Linked DNA regions of Homo sapiens. The protein of the gene in region 1 interacts with the protein of each later gene in a pairwise test. Each region holds a gene or a part of one and is shown in the gene's direction. Other genes may lie near its edges.

Region 1 (7,104 bases):
ACAGAGTCTCACTGTGTCACCCAGGCTGGCGTGAAGTGGTGCAATCTTGGCTCACTGCAACCTCTGCCTCCCGGGTTTAAGCAATTCTCCTGCCTCAGCCTCCTCAGTAGCTGGGACTACAGGTGCGTGCCACTACGCCCAGCTAATTTTTTGTTTCACCATGTTGGCCAGGCTGGTCTTGATCTCTTGACCTCGTGATCCGCCCGCCTCGGCCTCCCAAAGTGCTGGGATTACAGGCATGAGCCACCGCACCCAGTTCAGTCTGTTTTTGATATACCCTGTTTACAAATGCCTGGGCCTCACAGGTTAGTCATGTGACACCAGAGTCATGCCTCAAAGTCATGAGGTTGGATGGGCCCTGGGCAGTGGCATGCCAGAGTTGTTGTCCTTCTTGGGTTATGGAGTAGCCTTTCCAAAAGACTTGGGTACTTACCAGTTCTCATCATCCTTGTCACAAGTGAACTGCTAAGGAGAGAAAACAAAACATGGAAAGAGAATCAGTATGTGGAATTAGAATTCCTCATTCTATCCTGTCTCCATGGCCAGAAGTTCCACACTGGGAAAGGGCAGAGGATGATCTTCAATATCGCATAATCACAAATTGGAGCCGGGTGCAGTGGCTCACGCCTGTAATCCCAGCACTTTGGGAGGCTGAGGCGGGTGGATCACGAGGTCAGGAGATCGAGACCATCCTGGCTAACACGGTGAAACCCCGTCTCTACTAAAAATACAAAAAATTAGCTGGGCATGGTGGCAGGCGCCTGTAGTCCCAGCTACTTGGGAGGCTGAGGCAGGAGAATGGCGTGAACCCGGGAGGCAGAGTTTGCAGTGAGCTGAGATCGCACCACTGCACTCCAGCCTGGGCAACAGAGCAAGACTCCGTCTCAAAAAAAAAAAATTGGGGGGAAATTAATCTGGTAACATGGAAATTTCTTTACAAGTAGTCATTTCCCTTTGACTTGGTAAAAGTCCACTTTAGAAAATGTAACCCAGAAACACTGGGGGAAGGTAACGGTATTTCATGGTAATGAGAAGCTGGAAGTAACCTAAATGGGCAACAAAAGGGATGTCCAGCAGCCCATAAAATCACAGCATGGTGAAGACAATGTCATATGTTTAGTGAGTGCTTAGTATATGCTAGGCACATGGCTGGGTGTTTCACATGCGTTTTCTAGTTTAATCCTAACCCGCCTGTGAAGTAGGTACTGTTTACTAGCAAGAAAACCGAGGGACAGAGAGGATAAGTAGTCTACCTGATGCCAGGCTTTTAACTGGATATTGGCAATATGTGGTGGCTGACCACTTAGGCTCTGTTGATGGATCTGGGAAATAAATAAGAAAAGCTGAAGAAATGTACAGAAATATGAGGAATGGGAGGTACCTTTGGATAGGAAAGGAGATAAAATCAAACCGGCAATCCTCTTCTGCCTTCTGTGGGATCCCCATGAAGGAGAGACTGGGGTCCTGCCTGAGTCTTCTGGAAACTGAGCAAGTAATCACCCAGGTGTTTTTGATTGGCACCAGCCTGACCTGACCTATCTTCCTGCCCTTCCATCCAACACCTTCAGAATCCACCTCTTCTGATGCTGCCTCCTATAGTTGCTTCCCACCCCCTGCCTCAAGCCTAAGAGAGACAGCCCTGTGGAATGAGGCTTTATAAGTCACAACCTTTACAGCCACCTGTCTTTTCCATTTTTATCTTGGCTGCTGCCACATCTCTTCCCCTCTGGGGAAATCAGGAGCTTCTGTAGCCCAGAGATGGAAAATCATGGGCTTTAGCCTTCCCAGCTGCTTGTCCCTGTAGTGCAGCAAGCTCCAAGAGATGAAATCTGCTTATTGATGCTCCTAGTGACATGAAGGACTCCAGGATGGCCAGCACTCTGGGTCCATTGCCACAAGTGCTGCTTCGTGCCCTGTGATTAGCTCTGGTCCACTGTTTTCCCATTGATCAGGCAGGGTCGAAGCACCTATATGTGTTGGACCCGTATAGCTGTTGGCAGGTGGGGTGCCAGTGATACAGGAGGAACATCGTGCAGGCTCACTTCCACAGGGCGGGTGGTGGGAAGCTTTGGGGGATGACTGGCCAGCTGTAGGGATAGAAGTGAGGGAGGTGAGTGCCTGTGCCTGCTATGAACAGGAGGGCTTCTGGCTGAAGGTAGAGGCTCTCTGCTAGACAAGGCTCTGGCCTCAGTGAAATGGCATGCCAGTTTGGCATGATATATTCCCATGCCCAGATATTCTGAAGGGGACACTGGCTATCTTCTGAATCATAGCTGTTCCCCTGCCCTTCCTTCCACAGCCCCTCCTGGCACTTCTTTTCATGCTTTCAAGCTTCATACCAGGCAGAATTGCCTAACATGAATTGAACACCTTCCCTATGCAAATTAATGAGTCCCTCAAGGGGCTTAACTTATTGGACCACTTAACAGAATACACAAGTATGGAGGAAAGGATTCATTCCAGTGCTGTGACGGCCTAGCAGAGGGAGCAGTTCTTTCTAGCAGATAGGATCAAAAGAGCTACATTATAGTCAAGAGGTATCCAATTTGGTTCAGTGTTGTGGTCTCTAAATAAAGTTAGGGATAGGGTCTCTGGCCAAAAGCGAACCTACTATCTATTATGTCTCAGTTTCTTTGGCAGTGCCAGATGTTCCTGCATACAATGCCCCACAGCCTCTTCCACAATCAGGCTCAGATTGGCAGGACAAACAGATATTGAGCCAGCTCTGCTTGTGTCTCCACAATGAGAGCAAAACCTCCCAGCTGGAGGATGGTAGATGGTGCTCCGAGCCCCTACCTGTGCTGCTGGCTGCCAAGCCCTTGACACCATTGCATGGAGGACTTCATAGTGCTTATTACTTGGCACCACTGATGGCGGAGTGTTAGGTGATGCCTATTCCTTTATCTCTGCCCTGCCCTGAGTTCTTAGAATTTCATCTGAGGCTGAACCCATTAAAGAGCAAGCTTCACAAAGGTCCTGAGGCTTTCTTGTTTCAACCAGATCCTCTTCATCAGGGACATAACTGAATACTGTCACACTTGTGTGACAAATATTATGGCTTGCTTTCTAATGGGATAGACCTCCCCCTCCATCTTTTTGTTTTGTAAACAAAATCAACTTCAAAATAAGCTATTTTCTTTCTTTCTTTCTTTCTTTTGGAGGAGTCTCGCTCTGTCGCCCAGGCTGGGGTGCAGTGGCGCAATCTCCGCTCACTGCAAGCTCTGCCTCCCGGGTTCACGCCATTCTCCTGCCTCAGCCTCCTCAGTAGCTGGGACTACAGGCGCCCACCACCACGCCTGGCTAATTTTTTGTATTTTTCAGTAGAGACACGGTTTCACCGTGTTAGCCAGGATGGTCTCAATCTCCTGACCTTGTGATCCGCCCGCCTCGGCCTCCCAAAGTGCTGGGATTATAGGCGTGAGCCACCGTGCCCGGCCTTTTTTTTTTTTTTTTTTTTGAGACGGAGTCTCGCTCTGTCACCCAGGCTGGAGTGCAGTGGCGCAATCTCAGCTCACTGCTACCTCCAACTCCTGGGTTCAAGCGGTTCTCCTGCCTCAGCCTCCACAGTAGCTGGGATTACAGGTGTGTGCCACCACGCCCAGCTAATTTTTGTATTTTTGGTAGAGACAGGATTTCACCATGTTGGTCAGGCTGGTCTGGAACTCCTGACCTCAGGAGATCCACCTACCTGGGCCTCCCAAAGTGCTGGGATTATAGGCGTGAGCCACCGTGCCCGGCTAAAATAAGCTATTTTCTAAAGCAACCCGACCTGGGTTTTAAAATGCAGCAAAATATGAGATGGGAGGAAGGGGGCTTAGTGCCCAAAGCAGAGCCTTAACAAGCTTCATGTCTGTGGAAGAGATCATTGTCCTATAGGGTGGTGTGTGCTCCAGCCTGACCCAGAAGTGGACTGCATGTAAGAGCCTTGACCCAGAGCATCCATGGACATCTGTTGAGCAGTCCACTAGGAGAGGGAAGCTAAGAGGTTATGCTGAAGGGGACACTGGCTATGGTTATGCTGAAGGGGAAACTGGTTTTTTCCCTGGTTTCAAAATAACAAAGGACTGTCATGGTGGCTCATGCTTGTAATCCCAGCACTTTGGGAGGCTAAGACAGGAGGATCATTTGAGCCCAGGAGTTTGAGACCAGCCTGGGCAACATAGTTTTTTAGTTTTGCTAAGATTCTATCTCTACAAAAAGTTTTTAAAAAAATTTTAAATGAGAACAAAAGATAACATGCAGTGCTTCCATAAAATTTCTATTGGTAATAGTTTTTTTTTTTTTTTTTTTTACTATTTATTCTATAAATGTATTTTTAATCATTTTTAGTCTGTCATCACTTTCAGAGCATTGACAACTCTTAAACTTTTTTTTAGGTGATCGAAGTATGTGATTTGACTAAAGTAAAGTTAAAATATTGGTAAGTTTTCTCCCCTGCTGGTATATGTCACACTTGGTATAGACAGGCCATATCTACTATCTTCATAAGTTAGTAAAGATTCACATCTGTCACAGATGTGAATTATAGCCTGGTGCCATGAATTCCTGAGGCAACCTTCAAGCCTGCTCAGTTTCCTGGAGAAGAGAAGTAAACCTCATTAAGAATATGTGATGTGTTTAACACTTCATGTATATGTCATCTAACTTAATCCACTTGACAAAGCCAGACCTCAGCTCAGAGGTGATGTGACAGTCTCCTGGGTCATAGCTGCCCTCCCGCTGACAGCCTCTCTTGGCACCTCTTTTCATGTTTTCATGAGTAACAGAGGTGGGACAAACCAGATAGGTCTGACTCCAAAGCCTATGCTGAAGAGAATGCCAAAGAGACCACCATTTTAGAGCTATAATGTATTTTTTAGAATTACAGCGGGGATGACATGCACAGTCCAAAGTTGTTGCGCCCCCATTATGGCAAGGCAGCATGCCTGCATCTAAAAATCTAGAATACTCCTTCCTTTCTTTCTTTCTTTCTTTTTTTTTTTTGAGACGGAGTCTCTCTCTGTCACCCAGGCTGGTGTGCAGTGGCGCCATCTCAGCTCACTGTAACCTCCACCTCCTGGGTTCAAGCGATAGAATACTCCTTTCAGTAAGTCTCCTTAACTGGCTTCCCTTTCCCTTTTTGAGGGTGTGAAGAGGACCTGATTCCTGGGGCAGGCTCAGGCAGTTTTGCTGATAGAGGAGTAGACAAGCAAATGTGTGGTACCACTGGCCCCTGCAGGTTCTAGTTGTCTTTTAGTTTTACTGGGGCCTTCATACCTCAGGGTCTGGTGGCTTCTCTTCTCTACCCTTTTCTTAAGAGTCACTGGTGTCATAAAGCCCCAGAGGATCAACTCTGTATATCAGCCTCATGAGAACTGACCTTCTCCTGACCTCATTAATGCTCTTATTTAAAAGTTCTCTAATTAAGCTTTGTATTTTGATATAATTAGAGACTCACCTGCCTGTGTCTTAAAAATAACTCTCCCAGCTACTATCTCACATGATCTGTGGGCCCATCTTGTGAAGCCTAGTATTAAAAAATATTTTTGTTTTTCAGTGGCGTGCATTTTAATTCTCAGGCCATAGCTCCTACCATTGAACAGATTGACCAGTCTTTTGGCGCAACCCATCCTGGAGGTAAGCCAAGTCCATCTGATTCCTCTGGTCATCAGTGGCAGTTCATAGCAATAAACCTGCCCGGTAGTGCCATCCCACCCCACTTCCTGGAGTCAGGCTCCCATAGGATTGTGGGGTTGGTACTTGGGTGTGAAGGAAACATCCTCCCCCTTGTTTTCAACCTAGTAGGCCAGTTTAGAAACAAGCCACAGGGAAGGTGTTGTCAGTCATTACTCCCTGCCAGGCTGGTTTATGTTAGCCATTTCAGATGCCAGTCAACCATGTTATTTTCTTCTCCCCCACCCCCAACAGTGTACAACTCCGCTGAGCAGCTCTTCCATCTCAACTTCAGAGGACTGTCTTTCTCTTTTCAGTTAGACTCATGGACTGAGGCTCCAAAGTATGAGGTTAGCCCTTCCTGTCCCCTGGTGTTTGTTGTATGTGTCTGTGGTATGGCTCAGCAGATGGTGTCATGGGATGGGAATAGAGGAGTGGGTATTAGATAGGCAGACTTTCTTTGGTTTCCATGTATTTGAGCTCTACAGGGTAAAGTGGTAGAGTGGGTGGGTTGACAGAGGAAGAACAATGCTCAGGCTGGCATTCCGAGGAAGAGGATACTTCCCACAATGGAGTGAGGTCAGGCTCACTTTTCAGAGATAAGTTCATTCATTCCTTATTTTCAAGCTCCTAATCAACAGTTTTCCTGGTGGCCTAGAATTTGGAGATTTCATCCTCTGGATTTTCAGTTACCTTTGTTTTTGCAAACATTTCATTCATCCTAGGGGCTGTGAAAATGATAAGCTTTCATAAGACTTATTTTAATTAAGGAAGCATTTCTGCATTTTCCCCTATGAAGAAAAGGAAAACTGACCGGGCATGGTGGCTCATGCTTCTAATCCCAGCACTTTGGGAGGCCAAGGCGGGCGGATGACTTGAGGTCAGGAGTTCGAGACCACGTTGGCCAACATGGTGAAACCCTGTCTCTACCAAAAATATTAAAAAAAAAAAAAAAAAAAAACAGGCCGGGCGCAGTGGCTCACGCTTGTAATCCCAGCACTTTGGGAGGCCGAGGCGGGCCTCCTGGCTAACATGGTGAAACCCCGTCTCTATTAAAAATACAAAAAATTTAGCTGGGTGTGGTGGCGGGTGCCTGTAGTCCCAGCTACTTGGGAGGCTGAGGCAGGAGAATGGCGTGAACCCGGGAGGCGGAGCTTGCAGTGAGCCGAGATCATGCCACTGCACTCTAGCCTGGGCGACAGAGCGAGACTCCGTCTCAAAAAAAAAAAAAAAATTAGCTGGTTGTGGTGGTGCACACTTGTAGTCCCAGCTACTCAGGAAGCTGAGGCAGGAGAATCACTTGAACCTGGGAGGTGGAGGTTGCAGTGAGCTGAGATCATGCCACTGTACTCCAACCTGGGTGACAGAGTGAGACTCCGTCTCAAAAAAAAAGAAAAAAAAAGAAAAGGAAAACCAAGCAGAATTAAAGGTGGACTTACATGGTTTTGGGGA
Region 2 (7,419 bases), on another chromosome or scaffold:
GCTTAGGTGACAGAGTGAGACTCTGTCTCAAAAGAAAAAAAAAAAAGAAAAAAAAACTTATTTAGTCATAAAAAGCCTATGGGGTCGGGTGCAGTGGTTCACACCTGTAATCCCAGCACTTTGGGAGGCTGAGATGGGAGAATCACTTGAGCTCCGGAGTTCAAGATCAGCCTGGGCAACATAGGGAGGCCCTGTCTCTACAGAAAAAAATTTTTTAATTAGCCAGCATGTTGGTGTGTGCCTGTAAACCCAGCTACTTAGGAGGCTGAGGTGGGAGGATCACATGAGCCGAGGAGTTGGAGGTTGCAGTGAGCTATGATTGCACTACTGCACACCAGCCTGGGTAACAGCAAAACTGCCCCCCTCTGACGCCCCTGCTAAAAAGAAAGCCTATGAGGCTCATAATATTCTTTTTTTTTTGGAGACGGAGTCTTGCTCTGTTGCCCAGGCTGGAGTGCAGTGGCGCGATCTCGGCTCACTGCAAGCTCTGCCTCCCAGGTTCTCGCCATTCTCTGCCTCAGCCTACCGAGTAGCTGGGACTACAAGCGCCAGCCACCACGCCTGGCTAATTTTTTGTATTTTTAGTAGAGATGGAGTTTCACCATTAGGATGGTTTCGATCTCCTGACCTCATGATCCGCCCTCCTCGGCCTCCCAACGTGTTGGGATTACAGGCCTGAGCCACCGCGCCCCGCCCATATTATTCCTTCTACAATTTACAAAGGATGAAACAATGAAGGCACAGAAATTTACCAAGAAATGTAAAACTCAGCTAGTGTTCATCCTATTTGTAAATGGCACCACTCAGCTGATCAAGCCCAAAACACAGAAAACATCTTTTTTTTTTTTCCTCTAACACCTTTAAGGTTTCTTGGATTTGAACATCCTTGATTCTTTCCCTTTGGGTCCGGAGTTGGTTCCTTCCGGTGGATTCGTGGTCTGACTTCAAGAACGAAGCCGAGGACCTTCTCGTTGAGTGTTATAGCTCTTAAAGGTGGCATGGACCCAAAGAATGAGCAGCAGCAAGATTTATTGTAAAGAAGGAAACAACAAAGCTTTTAGCTTTCCACAGAGTGGAAGGGGCCTGGAGCAGGTTGCCGCTGCTGGGGGGAGTGGCCAGCTTTTATTCCCTTATTGTCCCCGCCCATGTTCCGTTTCTGTCCTAGCACAGTGCCCTTTCTTCAATCTTCCCCACGATTGGCTTTTAGACTCCTGCTGATTGGTACGTTTTACAGAGCACTGATTGGTGCATTTTACAGAGCACTGATTGGTGCATTTTACAGAGTGCTGATTGGTGCATTTTACAATCCTCTTGCTAGCTACAGAGCGTTGATTGGTGCGTTTTTACAGATCACTGAATGGTGCATTTTACAATCCCCTTGCTAGCTACAGAGTGCTGATTGGTGCACCTTACAATCCCCTTGCTAGCTACAGAGTGCTGATTGGTGCGTTTTCCAATCCTAGCTACAGAGTGCTGACTGGTGTGTTTTACAATCCTCTCCTAAGACAGAAAAGTTCTCCAAGTCCCCACTCTACCCAGGAAGTCCAGCTGGCTTCACCTCTCACCTTCATCCTGTAACCGAGTCCTAACTTGTTCTGCTCACTGCATGACAGCCAAGGGGTGAAGAGTCAAGGAGTTAGAGCAAGGATAGTAACTTTATTTCTGAGAGCTAGCAAACCCGGAAAATTGCAGAATAATGTACTAAAGAACCATCTTTTTGGCTGGGCATGGTGGCTCACGCCTGTAATTCCAGCACTTTGGGAGGCCAGGGCGGGTGGAACATGAAGTCAGGAGTTCAAGACCAGCCTGGCCAAAATGGTGAAACCCCGTCACTACTAAAAATGCAAAGAATTAGCCAGGAGTGGTGGCGGGTGCCTGTAATCCCAGCTACTCAGGATGCCGAGGCAGAAGAATCGCTTTAACCCGCGAGGTGGACGTTGCAGTGAGCCAAGATTGAGACACTGCACTCCAGCCTGGTGACACAGTGAGACTCCATCTCAAAAAAAAAAAAAAGTTGGAGTCTTGCTCTGTCGCCCAGGCTGGAGTGCAGTGCCTTGATCTTGGCTCACTGCAACCTCCACCTCCCGGGTTTAAGTGATTCTCCTGTCCCAGCCTCCCGAGTAGCTGGGACTACAGGCGCACACCACCACGTCCAGCTAATTTTTGTATTTTTAGTAGAGACGGGGTTTCTCCATGTTGGTCAGTCTGGTCTTGAACTCCTGATCTCAGGTGATCCACCTATTTCGGCCTCCCAAAGTGCTGGGATGAGAGGTGTGAGCCATCACACCCAGCCTGAAGAACCATCTTAAGTTAGTACACATTTCAGGCTCTTTTTGTGTTAAGGGCAGGGGGAAGAAGAGAGGGTTTGAATCAAGGGGTGACTGATGACCGTAGACATCTGGGCGCCAGCAAGGGTTCCTCGAGGCCTGAAGCCTCTCTGTTACTGGTCAGGTCACAATACTTTCTCAAACTCTCAACATTGTTACTTGTGTGTACACCCTCCTTTTCTCCTTGGGGGTTAGTTTTGGGAAGGGACTATTATCATCCTTGCTTTAAAGTTAAACTATAAATTCCTCCCTTGGTTAGCTTAGTCTATGTGCAGAGATAAGCAAAAGCAGTTAACTTAGATATCACCGATGGGTGGGAGTGGGGAGTTTAGGAGCAAAATGGAGTTAGTCATGCTAGGCCTCCTTTTCAATGTTACAATTCCACATTATCAAGTTATTTCAATCCCACATTATCAAGTTATTTCAATATTTCCAAATATATTCTTCTTCTTCTTCTTCTTCTTTTTTTTTTTTTGAGCGAGAGTTTTGCTCTGTCGCCCAGAGGCTGGAGTGCAGTTGCACGATCTCGGCTCACTGCAACCTTCACATCTCGGATTCAAGCGATTCTCCTGCCTCAGCCTCCTGAGTAGTTGGGATTACAGGCGTGCACCATCAAAACCCGCTGATTTTTGTATTTTTAGTAGAGACAGAGTTTCACAAAGTTGGCAAGGCTGGTCTTGACCTCCTGACCTCAAGTGATCTGCCCCTCTCAGCCTCCCAAAGTGCTGGGATTACAGGTGTGAGCCACCGTGCCCGGCCTTTTCTTTCATTTCTTTTTTTAAAATTTTTTAAAATTTTATGTATGTATGTATGTATGTATGTATGTATGTATGTATGTATGTATCTATCTATCTATCTATCTATCTATCTATCTATCTATCTATCTGTCTTGAGAGGGACTCTCTGTCACCCAGGCTAAAGTGCTGGAGGGCAATGGCGTGATCTATAGGCTCACTGCAATCTCCGCCTCCTGGGTTCAAGCAATTCTTCCGCCTCAGCCTCCCCAGTAGCTAGGATTACAGGCATTGGCCACCACACCTGGCTATTTTTAGTAGAGACGGGGTTTCTTCATGTTGTCCAGGCTGTTCTAGAACTCCTGGCCTCAAGCGATCTTCCCGCCTAGGCTTCCCAAAATGTTGGGATTGCAGGCGTGAGCCACCACGCCCAGCCCACCACGCCTGTTAATAAGCTATACCCTCACGGACCTGTCATTGGCATTAAATTTGATAATACATTAGAGTATTGTATATGAAGTATACGAAGGCCTGTGCTGAGTGTTCAAGAAGTCAGTCAGTATTATTCTACTTATATTAATAAATGAACTGATGAAATGACAATGGCGAGATCTCGATCTTCAACAATAAGGGAGATGGAAACTGAAGCAAGAAGTGGTCTACAAACCTAGCTCAAATTGTTGAGATTACCGGCCGTGCCCCTTATTCAGATCAACCCCTCCTCGGCTGATCGCCGGCGCGAGCCAGCCTAGGCTCCCGGAAGGTAAACACATCGCCAAGGGCTGGGCAGAAGGCGGGTGTGGGACGGGTGAGTGGCCAGCTAAAAGTGATTGGCAGCTGCCATGTCCACGTGCTCCGAGCTTGGAACCAGCTGTCGCGAGAATTCGATGTAAACAGACCAGTCTCCCTGTCCTCCGGCTCCAACCTGAAACGCTCACGTGAGCGGGACAGGAGTCTGGATCATGTTGCTTTTCTTTTCAAAGCCACGAAGGTTCTGTCTTCCAAAAAAAATGTACATGTTCGTAATTATTCCCCAGCTGCCTGCGTTTGCAACCGAACCTGACACCTCGGCTTCACCCGAACTTACATGCTGTTGTGTTTTCCCTCCAGCCCCAGCGGATTGGACACATTCAGAAGGCGGGTCCGCCTCTTTCCTACTTGCTGGTTGGCGAAGCTGACCTCCAAGGGCGGTGCCCGGCCATAGCCGGTTTGCTTCTGGGATTGGCTAGAGGGGGTGGTTCCGCTGAGGCGTGGTAGGAAGTGGCTGCCGTCAATCACTCGGGGAGACTCCAAACAGTGAGCCTAGAGCTGGAGACTAGCGTTAACCGGCGGGGCGGCCGGTGAGAGGGCTGGCAGGGCTTTGGCTTTGGGGAGGCTTGGGGAGGACGAGGGACTGGCGGCGTGAGGGGACTGGGTCGGGCTGGCAGGAATTCGACAGGAGAGAGGTGTCGATACTGGAGGGGGAGGGGAACAGTGCAAGGGGCCGGAGGGCGGCCGGGGGCAGCGGTGGCTCCGTGTTGGAGGTTAAGTGGGCAGCGCCGTACGAGTGTCTTTCAGGAGACTGGGGCCTGAGTGGCTGGCGAGGGTCGTCCCCAGGAGACAGGGCCCTTAAAGGGCAGGGCTTGGGAGACTGTGGTTCGAGAAAGCAAGAATGGGATGAGAATGAGAGGGCTGAGGGGCTGGAGGTGCAGGTATCCTCTGAGGAGGTGGTGGCTCTGCTCCTTGGGGCAGAGGGTGTTTTGGTTGTAGGAGGTGGGGCGCACAGGTTTAGAGTTTTCACATCAGGTGTGAATGCTCCCTACTTAAAAATGGTTTTCGGTGCCTTCAAGATGAGTTCCAGGTTGTGGGCTTCCCTGAGCCCTGTAAGAGATCTTTGATATTGCTGTCAGTCCTCTTTTAACCTTAACCAAGCCGACTCCATGCTCTTAAAATCTCAGTGATTCAGAGGGTCATGAAACATTCTAGGATCAGGATTTACTGATGTGACGGGAAAGGGTAAAGGGCTGTAACAACGTATTAGTTTATGTTAGTTATTTGACTACTTGCTACTAGTCAAATAATTACTTGACTTATTTGTTATAGTAGCAGGGGGTTACGAATGTGATTTAAATTGTGATTTACTCATAGATTCCCAACAGGTTTAATTGGAAGGTAGAGTGATATCATGTCACTTGTTCCGTTTGGTCTTGAAATATTGTACCATGTGTATTTTCACTATCTCAACATAAAATTGCAGTAAATTCCCATCCCATGATCTGGTTCTCTCACCCTTGTAATTTATGTTAACAACAGACCAAGGGGTACAGCAGGAGTCTTCCTTACATTGTTTTGTGGTTCTGAGACCTGGTCCTATTAAAAAACAAAACAGGATGGGCGCGGTGGCTCAAGCCTATAATCCCAGCACTTTGGGAGGCTAAGGCGGATGGATTGCTTGAGCTCAGGAGTTCGAGACCAGCCTTGGCAACATGGTGAAACCCCGTCGCTACAAAAAAATATAAAATTTAGCTCGGCATGGTGGCGCTCGCCTGTAATCCCAGCTACTCAGGAGGCTGAGGCAGGAGAATTGCTTGAGCCTGGGAGGCGGAGATTGCCATGAGCAGAGATCGTGCCACTGAACTCCAGCCTGGGCGACAGAGCGAGACTCTATCTCAAAAATAATAATAACCCCCCAAACCCCTCATTATAATTTGAAAAAAATTAAAAACCTACTTCCTCCTTTTTTCCCTTTCTGGTGTAACAGGAATTTCTGGGAAAGTTTCCTACATTTGAGGCATTTTTGACAAGGGATCTCTAGTGAGTAATCATAAATCTTCCTCCCTACCCCCAACAACGATCCATGTTTTTCTGTTTTTTGTTTGTTTGTTTGTTCTGGAAACAGGTTTTATGAATGAAGCTATGGCTACAGATTCCCCAAGAAGACCCAGTCGTTGTACTGGTGGAGTTGTGGTTCGCCCCCAGGCTGTCACGTAAGCACATTTCAGATAAACCCAATAGCTGAAGAAAAGATTACTCAGAATACTAACATTTAGGTTTTCTTTATGAACAGTGGTTACTTTTGTAAAAATCTTTTAACTGTTGGCTTTATGGGATGAATAATAATAATTGCCAAGACCAAATGAAGAATTGGAGAGTTAAGTTGACGTATTCAGCACATTTACAGAGTACGTGAAGAGCACTATGCTAAATCCTGAAGAGCAGTGTTTTCAAACTCCAGGTTTAACAAATTAGTGGATTGTTAAATCAGTTTAGTGGGTCAGGAGTTGTAGTAGAAAATGAAATAGAGGCCGGGCGCAGTGGCTCATGCCTGTAATCCCAGCACTTTGGGAGGCCCAGGCAGGCGGATCACGAGATCAGGAGATCGAGACCATCCTGGCTAAAACGGTGAAACCCTGTCTCTACTAAAAATACAAAAAATTAGCCGGGTATGGTGGCCCCTGTAGTCCCAGCTACTCGGGAGGCTGAGTCAGGAGAATGACGTGAACCTGGGAGGTGGAACTTGCAGTGAGCTGAGATCGCGCCACTGCACCCTAGCCTGGGCGACACAGCAAGACTCTGTCTCCAAAAAAAAAAAAAAAAAGAAAGAAAATGAAATAGAATATAATAGAAAATTAGAAAATATAGCTGAGAGTTTGTATTGTTTCATGACATGCACATAAATATGTTCATGTGTATGTATATATTTACCAGACAGTGATGTAAAATGTATCTCTTTTAACTTTTAAGTTCAAGGGTACATGTGCAGGTTTGTTATATAGGGAAACTCATGTCACAGGGGTTTGTTGTACAGATTATTTCATCACCCAGGTATTAAGCATAGTCCCCATTAGTTATTTTTCCTGACCCTCTCCCCGCTCCCACCCAACTCTGATAGGCACCAGTGTGTGGTGTTCCCGTCTATGTATCCATGTGTTATCTATAAAAGGAATCTCTTAGTCTAGGTCTCTGTCAGAAAGTTTCAAAGTAAGTGTCATAGTATATGTCTCTGTTTTTGGCATTCTTTGACAAAGAATGTCTATACTTACTAGAGTGAGTTTATAATCTAATATGGTTTGAAGATATGTATACTTTTTTTTTTTTTTTAGATGGAGTCTCACTCTGTTGCCCAGGTTGGAGTGCAGTGGCGCCGTCTCGGCTCGCTGCAGCCTCCACCTCCTCCTCTGTCTCCCAGATTCAAGCGATTCTCCTGCCTTGGCCTCCCAAGTAGCTGGGATTACAGGCGAGCGCCACCAGGCCTGGCCAAATTTTGTATTTTTAGCAAAGACGGGGTTTTGCCATTTGGCCAGGCTGGTCTTGAACTCCTGACCTCAGGTGATCTGCCTGTCTTGGCCTCCCAAAGTGCTAGAATTACATGTGTGAGC
Region 3 (8,068 bases), on another chromosome or scaffold:
TACAGCACTGGGTACATAGTGTTATACATCCCGCTGGTGTAAGCCAAAACCATTTTCGTGGATAACTAAGCTAACTATTAGTAACGGTATGAAAAAATACAAATTAATAAAAGAACATTTCAGAAATGTAGATCCAACAATGTGTTAATAGCCAGCCAGAAAGTAGGTACTGCAGAATTGTTACAAGTCCCCCACATTATATAACCAGCTATTGAGAACAAGGAGAGAGCGGATGTAAAATTCTGAGAAGGATATTGGATAGAACCTCAGGGAAATTCTGTCATCCAAAGTCATCTTCTCCTGCCCATTTCCTTCCTGATTGTCTCCAAGGCTGGACCCAGCTTCCAAATTCCCTCTTTTTTAGTTCCCAGTCTTTGGGATGTTATTATAACATCCAAAAGCTTTTTGAAGGTGATGATCCTACCTTATGCATTCCAAAATCTGCTGTGCTTGGGGCAAGGCCTGGTAGACCTAACAGGCGCAGTAGATGTCTGTGAAATAACTGGCTGAATGTAACACAAACACCACACCAGCAGGCATGGGGCTTGCACAGAGCATGGCGGCTTCATGGTGAGGTTGCTGCAGCTTCACTCCTCTTCTGTTCAGGCCTCCTGATCCTATAAACAAGTATCCCCTAATCCCACAACGGTGGTTCCTTGGCTGCAAGGCTGTGAGGTTTTATTCAATAGGCTATGGTCCCTTGCACAGTGCTCTGTAAAAATGTATTGGGTAATTAGAATTAATACCTTTTTTGTTGACATTGCCAACTATGAAATCGGGCTTTTTCTGCCTCAGTTGCCTAAGGACTAGGCTGGGACTGGGTGGAGTTGGTCATGGGTGGAGGCTTCTCGGGTGATTTAGGGCAAGTGAGTTAACAACTTGTACCACACATGTGAGATGGAGAAGTGCGTGAGGATGTTAAAAATGATTAAACAGCACTTTGCAAACAATCACAACAACACTTTGTGGCTGACAAGTAGGATAGGGAAAGTTGAGTGTCATACAGCCCAAAGAACTGTTAAGAAAAATATTCATGGAACTAGTCAGAACTGGTAGTTCCCCATAAGCAGGTGGGTGGGTTGTAGTGGGAAGTGTCCCAGATCAGACTGGGCAGGCCTTGCTGGGGTGGTGGGGTGGGGGTGATCATGGTGGGAGGAGGAGTATTGAGGAGTGGGCACAGGTGAAACCCCATCGCGACGGCCACCATTACAACATCACCCCTTGAACCCTTAAGTTACATTAATATCTAAGCCTGACTTGGCTTTATAGTTAACAACATTGAGTATGTCTGATTACAAAAGAACAAACAATTTGGGGGCAGATGTTCTCTAACTGGTGTGAGCAGAAGTTTCACTTGTAGGGATGGATGGGTTACATGTTCAAAATACAGATCTCTAAGCCTTCATCCGGAATTTTCTGATTCAGAAGATCTAGGGTAGTGATGCTAAGCCAAGGACGATTTTGCCTACCAGGGGACATTGGGCAGTATCTGGAGACAGTTTGCATTGTCACAACGGAAGCCTGGGATGTTCCTAAACATCCTACATTGAACAGGACAGCCCCTCCTAACAAAGAATTATCAGACCTTCAATGTCAATAGGGCCTGGGTTAGAAAATCTTGCTCTAGGGCAAGGACCAGGTACGTGCATCTTAACAAGGGCCTCAGGAGATTTTAATGCGGAAGCAGAAGCCTTACACGGTGTCTTTTTGATACAAGGGCTTCAGTATCAGAGTTCCCTTTTTGCCTACCCGTTTGTTATATGTAAGACTCAGCTTTGACTTACCTCTTCCCTTGAAGCCCCGCCTGGTAACCATCCTTCCTTTCGCCAAGTTCAGGGTAATCACTCCTCCTAAGAACACCTTCACCACATACTTATAACCAACTGATCTTTGGCAAAGCATATAAAAACATAAGTTGGGAAAAGGTCTATTCCAGTGTTCTCCAGCCTTTTTTTCACCAGGGACTGGTTTCATGGAAGACAATTTTTCCATGGACCAGGGCAGGGTGGATGGTTTTGGGATAAAACTGTTTGACCTCAGATCATTAGGCATTAGATTCTCATAAGGAGTGTGCAACCTAGATCCCTTGCATTCACAGTTTACAATAGAGTTAGAGCTCCCATGAGAGTCTAATGCCCCTGCTGAAGTGACAGAGCTCAAATGGTAATGCTTGCTTACCCCTACCTGCTCACCTCCTTCTGTGCCACCTAGTTCCTTACAGGCCATGGACAGGTGCTAGTCCATGGTTCAGGGGTTCGGGACCCCTGCCCTATTCAATAAATGGTGCTGGGAAAATTGGATAGCCACATGTAGAAGAATGAAACTATCCCTGTCTCTGACCATATATAAAAATTAACTCAAGATGGATTAAAGACTTTAAACATAAGACCTGACACCATAAATATTCTAGAAGAAAACCTAAGAAAAACTCTTCTGGACATTGGCTTAGGCAAAGAATTTCTGACTAAGCCCTCAAAAGCAAATGCAACAAAAATAAATAAATAAATGGAGCCTAATTAAACTAAAAAAATTCTACCCAGTAAAAGAAACAATCATCAGAGCAAACAGACAACCTACAGAATGGGTGAAAATATTTGCAAACTATGCATCTGACAAAGGACTAATATCCAGAATCTACAAGGAACTCAAACAAATCAGCAAGAAAAAAAAAAAAATAATCTCATTAAAAAGTGGACAAATGACGTGAATAGACATTTCTCAAAAGGAGACAGACAAATGGCCAACAAACATAATGAAAAAATGCTGAACATCAATAATCACAGGGTAAATGCAAATTAAAACTGCAGTGAGATAGCACCTTACCCTAGCCAGAATGGCCATTATTAAAAAGTCAAAAAACAACAGATATTGGTGTGGATGTGGGGAAAAGGGAACTTTTATACCCACTGCTGGTGTGAATGTAAATTAGTACAATCTCTATGGAGAACAGTATGGAGATTTCTCAAGGAATTAAAAGTAGATCTACCATTTGATCCAGCAACCCCACTACTGGGTATCTACCCAAAGGAAAAAAAGTCATTATGTCAAAAAGACACCTGCAGGCGTATATTCATTGCAGCACAATTGCAAAGATATGAAATCAACATAAGTGCCCATCAACTGATTATTGTATAAAGAAAATGTGGTATATATATCTATATATGTGTATTTGTGTATATATATGTGTGTTTGTGTGTATATACACACATATATATACACCGTGGAATACTACTCAGCCATAGTAAAGAACAAAATAATGTCTTTCACAGCAACTTGGATAGAGCTGGAGGCCGTTATTCTAGGTGAAGTAACTCAGGATCAAAAACCAAATACCACACGTTCTTGGTTATAAGTGGGAGCTAATGCATGGGTATGCAAAGGCATATGGAAAGATATCATGGACATTGGCAACTCAGAAGCGAGGAGTATGGGAAGGGGGTGAGGACTGAAAAACTACCTATTGGGTACGATGTACACTACTCGGGTGACGGGTGCACTGAAATCCCAGACTTCACCACTATGCAATTCATCCATGTAACCGAAAACCACTTTTACCCCTAAAGCTATTGAAATAAAAAAAATAATAAAGCAAAAAAAAACACCTCTAGTCCCAGCCTGCATCAAATGCCCTCAGTTGCTTTGCCCTCTCACTGGAAGGAGCACTCCTTGAGGGCATGGTCTAGGTTCACCTTGTTCACAGACTTGCCCCCAACACCTCAAAAGGTGCCTGGCCGATAGCAGAACTCAATAATCACATGTTTGTTTCAATCTCTCTGTGCTCAAATGCCATATCCTACATTGAATCTAGAGCCACCCACCCCCTTTTAGACACTATTACAGCACTCAGCTTAACGTCTTCATGGAGCGAATCACTCAAAGTATCCTGTTTATTTGCTTGCTTACTTTTCATTCATTCAACAAATATTTTACTGGGCACTTATTATATGTCTTGTGCTTTGCCAGCACTTGGGGATATAAGAGAACAAAGAGGCAAAAATCCTTCCTTCCATTGGAGCTTACATTCAAGAGGGGAACTTGTACAATCAACAGAATAGAAAACTGTCTATAACCTGTGTGACACTCACTGATCAGCTCACTGGGGAATAACAAAATGGAGAAATGGGGCAGGGAGTGTGTGTGTGTGTGTGTGTGTGTATTTTAGGTGAGGTAGACCTTTGGGAAAAGGGGACATTTAAGCAAAGATTGGATAGCTGGGGGGCACTTGTCTGCACTCCCCCATTAGAATATAAATACCAACATGGCCACCACCTTCCCTTTCTCTGTGGCCTCTGTGTCTCCAGAATAGGCACATAGTAGATGCTCAATAAACATTCTTCAAAGGAAACAAAAAGAGGAGTATATGATTAGACCTTAAAGTAGACAGAAGGGAGATTTTTGTTTTTGTGACCACCCATTGATTAGCGAGAAAGTGGGAGGGACAGGGGCACTAAATTGAAGGGGTCGTGGGGAGCACATTTTGGTGGGGGCAGGTTAAGACTTACAGGATGGAGATCCTCACTGGATAAGGTCCCCTCCCCCTTCCCAGCCCCGAGCAAACCTAAGTTCTCCCTCTCCTAAGATTGTGCATGGTCCCTGCTGGTCAGCCAACCTGGCCCCCCTGAATCTCCCTCCACAGCCTCCCAGCTTCAGAGTTCAGCCATCATCACACTGCCTCCTTTTCTCCCGCACCCCTTCCCTCCTCACCTCCTTTCCTCCCGCCCCCGCCCCTTCCGCCTCCCGGAGGGGTGTCCCCGCGCCCGGTGGGCACGCCCTCGCCCCGGCGGAGAGGGCGCACAGAGGGGCCTGGGCCGGCGCGCCGGGGCCCCCGCCCCCAGCCCCTCTCCCCTGCGGGACGCTGTCCCTTTAATAGGCTCCCGCTGCCTGGCGCTCTGCGGCTGGGGAGTAAATTTCTCCCTGTCATCAGGTCGCGGGGAGAGGAGGAGGAGGAGGAGTTTGTTAATGTTCAGTTTGTTCAGCGGGATCGATGTTTGCTGGCATCGCCTCGCCCTGTCTTGTGTGTGTGTGCGAGGGTGTGTGTGTGTGTTTGTGTGTGTGTGCATATGTGGGGGGTGTGAGTGTGTGTGTGCGAGGAAGCGGGGGTGCGTGCGCGTGTGAGTGCGTGTGTGAGTGTCTGTGTGTGTGTCTGTGTGTGTGTGTGAGTGAGTGAATTCCAGATTTTCTGTCTTTCCAAAACCCGCTCCTGTCCTCTCGCATATCACTCACAGACGGGGATCTGACAGCAGCCACAAACCTACAGTGAGTGATCGCTCTCCCCCCGGCACGAATCCGCCATAGAGATCGGCGAGGAGGAGGAGGAGGAGGAGGAAGAAAAGAAGGAGGAGGTGGAGGAGGAGGTGGAGGAGGAGGAGGAGGAGGGAAAGAGGAGAAGGAAGAAGAAGAAAAAGAAGAAACCCACTACCTTCCCAGGATTGCCTTTTTTTTTTCCTTATCTTTACGCGCGAGTGTGCCTGTGGCGCGTGTGCGCCCCTCGTCCCTTCCATCCGAACCCGGGCTTGGATGTTTAATAAAGAAATCAAGTGTCTCAACAGTCACCAAAAAAAAAAAAAACCGCAAAAACAAAACCAAAAAAATTCCAAAAGCAAAAACAAAAAAGAGAGAGGAAAAAAAATTCAAAATAAACAAACAAACAAACAAGGCAGAACCAACCTCTACTTCAAAGCAGCCGGCACAAGCCACCCGTGTCTGCCACCCAGAGAGGGGGGTCTCTGGCCCGTGGTGGAGGAGTTGCAGGGGGGATCGTCAGGGGGACAGAGGCCGAGTGACGTCCTAGGAGCCACCGGGCAAGAGGCGGAGGAGACCCAGAGAGGCCAGAGAGACAGCGGGCCCCAGCGCGCGGCTCGGGGCTGGGGCGCCAGAAGTGGGACTGGAGCGAAGTAGAGGATGCCGAGGAGAAAACAGCAGGCACCCAAGCGGGCGGCAGGTAAGAGAAACGGCTCCGCTTCGGGGCTGCCCTGTGCGCCGAGCTCCTCGCCCGCCCTCCTTGCCCCTGGGTGCCCGGGGGCACCACCCACTTAAGCTTTCGGGGGAGTTTGCGCCGGGTGCCCTTCTAATAACCCCGTCCTCTCTCGCCTTCTCTGGTCTCCCAAATCCTCCCCTTCCAAGCTCCGGTTGGGTTGGGGTGAGCTATCCCACCAAGCCTTTCCTCCTTAAACTTTCTTTCCTCCACCCTCTACCCCACCCCTAACTTTCTTCCAGTCTGTTTCTTGCCTCTCGGGCCAAAGTCGGATTGAGGATTTGGGGTGCGGAGTAGGGAGACAGCCCCTCCACCCCTGCATCCCTCTGCGTGGTCAGTGCCAGTGGCTTTTGGCCTCCAGGGATAGCGTCTCCTCTCACTGGGGCTTGGGGCGCTGAAGTGTGAGGCATACCTAACACTCGGGCTGCAGGCAGGCTTTGGGGCCAGCAATAGGAGTTTAGCGTTGATCACCAAGGTGGACAAAATGCCCCCAGGAAATGGATGACTCTTTGCATATATTTTCTAAAAGGATCCATATTTGGAAATGTAATTAACAATTTCCCTATTCTTTAAAAAAACCAAAAAGGGTTGTAGGGGGGAAATTCCCCATAGAAATTTAAACAGCTCTGGATTTTCTTTGCCTAGAGAGTTGCAAACTTTGTGAAATGATTCGTACTGTAAAAACTATCCCATCTGAATCCTTACTGCCCCCTAAAAAAGATAAGAACAGGTTAATGGATCAGTACAATAGACCTTCTAAAGTTTTTTTTTCTTTTGGGTTGCTTAATTGCTTTTTTAATAGTATGCTGGGGTTTTGTTTCTCGGAAATGTAATATGAAAGTTCATTTTTCTTCTGCCAGACCCACCCACTGAAAAATCAGCTTTCCACTTGATTGCTAGTTTTGATTTGACATTTGATTGATCACCTGTCATCTCGCTGCCTTTGATCTATTCATTCTTGATATATATCAATAAATCACTCACCATGGTAACTCAGAGTGCCAGTGACGCAAACCTTGCCCTCTATATTCAGAGCCAGACATGCACAATTATTATCTTGTTTGGCTTTTAATGTGGGCGTTTTTATTTCTTTGTGTCCTTTAGTTGAATCAGGGCTTTCGCAAAAAGCTTAAGTTTAGTTGTTTTTTCCTCTCTCTCTGTCTTTACCCTCTTGATTTAGGCAACATTAGGTAAGACTGGTCTTCTGCAGACCCACCTCCACATTTCATTCTGTTCCAACTCTAGCAAAACATAGGGAGAAGTTTGGTGGAACACTTTCATAAACTTTGCAAAGTCACCCTTAGAACAAATCCAAAGTTAGTTAGGAATCTGAGGAGAGTGGGCATCCCTTGTCTGAATGTGTTGAACCACCAAGCTCATCCTCCTTCCTCGCCTGAGTGTTTCAAAATATCCACAATTATCATTCCTTCTGAGCACAGAATTGCTTCCCTATTTGTAAGTTGGTTCAAGTGGCATGCAGAAATATTGATAAAGCGTGGATTCATATATTTTCTGATCGTTTCCCTAAAAGCAAAATAATTAAAATATTTTTAGTGAGGTACGTATTTGGAACTTGCCTCATCAGTGAGGTTTTCTTTTTTCAACTCTAGTTACTTCTTTGGAAAACAATGTCTCTTTCCTACCGTTGTCTCTTTCTGCATTTAACTCACTGATTTCCTAAAACTTAGGCTGCTTTGCAATCTGACAGCGTGTGGATGTGTTCAATGGCCTTTGAGACCCAGGAACAGTGAGCCTGCTGCATCTAGTTCTGGCAACATAAGTTTAAGTGTAGCTACATTATTAGAGATAACGTCCTTATTGTTGTCCCGAAAGAGAACCCTGGGCTACGGTCCAGCAAGAAGTGATACTGCCCTGAAAATTACTCTTTTTTTTTTTCTGGTTGTTCCGGTAAAGACTATCAACAACTAGGCAGTAATTTAAATTACCAGAATGACTGGACATGTCTCCTTTAGTAAGCTCATTACAAAAAGTGCATTGCTCAGAATTGCTCGACTTTGATTATAATTATCCTACGATCGATAAGGATCCAGGTGTACGTAACATAACACTGTATCACATTATTTAAATCAGGTC

What was found.
Region 2: the proteins of PHAF1 (region 1) and BCAS3 interact in binary tests that used the Homo sapiens proteins (3 or more experiments, as listed by UniProt).
Region 3: the proteins of PHAF1 (region 1) and TSHZ2 interact in binary tests that used the Homo sapiens proteins (3 or more experiments, as listed by UniProt).

Annotation. Positions count from the first base shown.
Region 1 is NC_000016.10:67,126,910-67,134,013, forward strand, and holds part of PHAF1 (phagosome assembly factor 1), read left to right. Parts: intron 1-4,376; coding exon 4,377-4,420; intron 4,421-5,536; coding exon 5,537-5,616; coding exon of another isoform or gene 5,617-5,907; coding exon 5,908-6,002; intron 6,003-7,104. UniProt on the Homo sapiens protein: Plays a regulatory role in autophagic activity. In complex with BCAS3, associates with the autophagosome formation site during both non-selective and selective autophagy.
Region 2 is NC_000017.11:60,673,514-60,680,932, forward strand, and holds the start of BCAS3 (BCAS3 microtubule associated cell migration factor), read left to right. Parts: upstream 1-4,337; 5' UTR 4,338-4,401; intron 4,402-5,939; 5' UTR 5,940-5,944; coding exon 5,945-6,027; intron 6,028-7,419. UniProt on the Homo sapiens protein: Plays a role in angiogenesis. Participates in the regulation of cell polarity and directional endothelial cell migration by mediating both the activation and recruitment of CDC42 and the reorganization of the actin cytoskeleton at the cell leading edge.
Region 3 is NC_000020.11:52,967,393-52,975,460, forward strand, and holds the start of TSHZ2 (teashirt homolog 2), read left to right. Parts: upstream 1-4,965; 5' UTR 4,966-5,901; coding exon 5,902-5,941; intron 5,942-8,068. UniProt on the Homo sapiens protein: Probable transcriptional regulator involved in developmental processes. May act as a transcriptional repressor.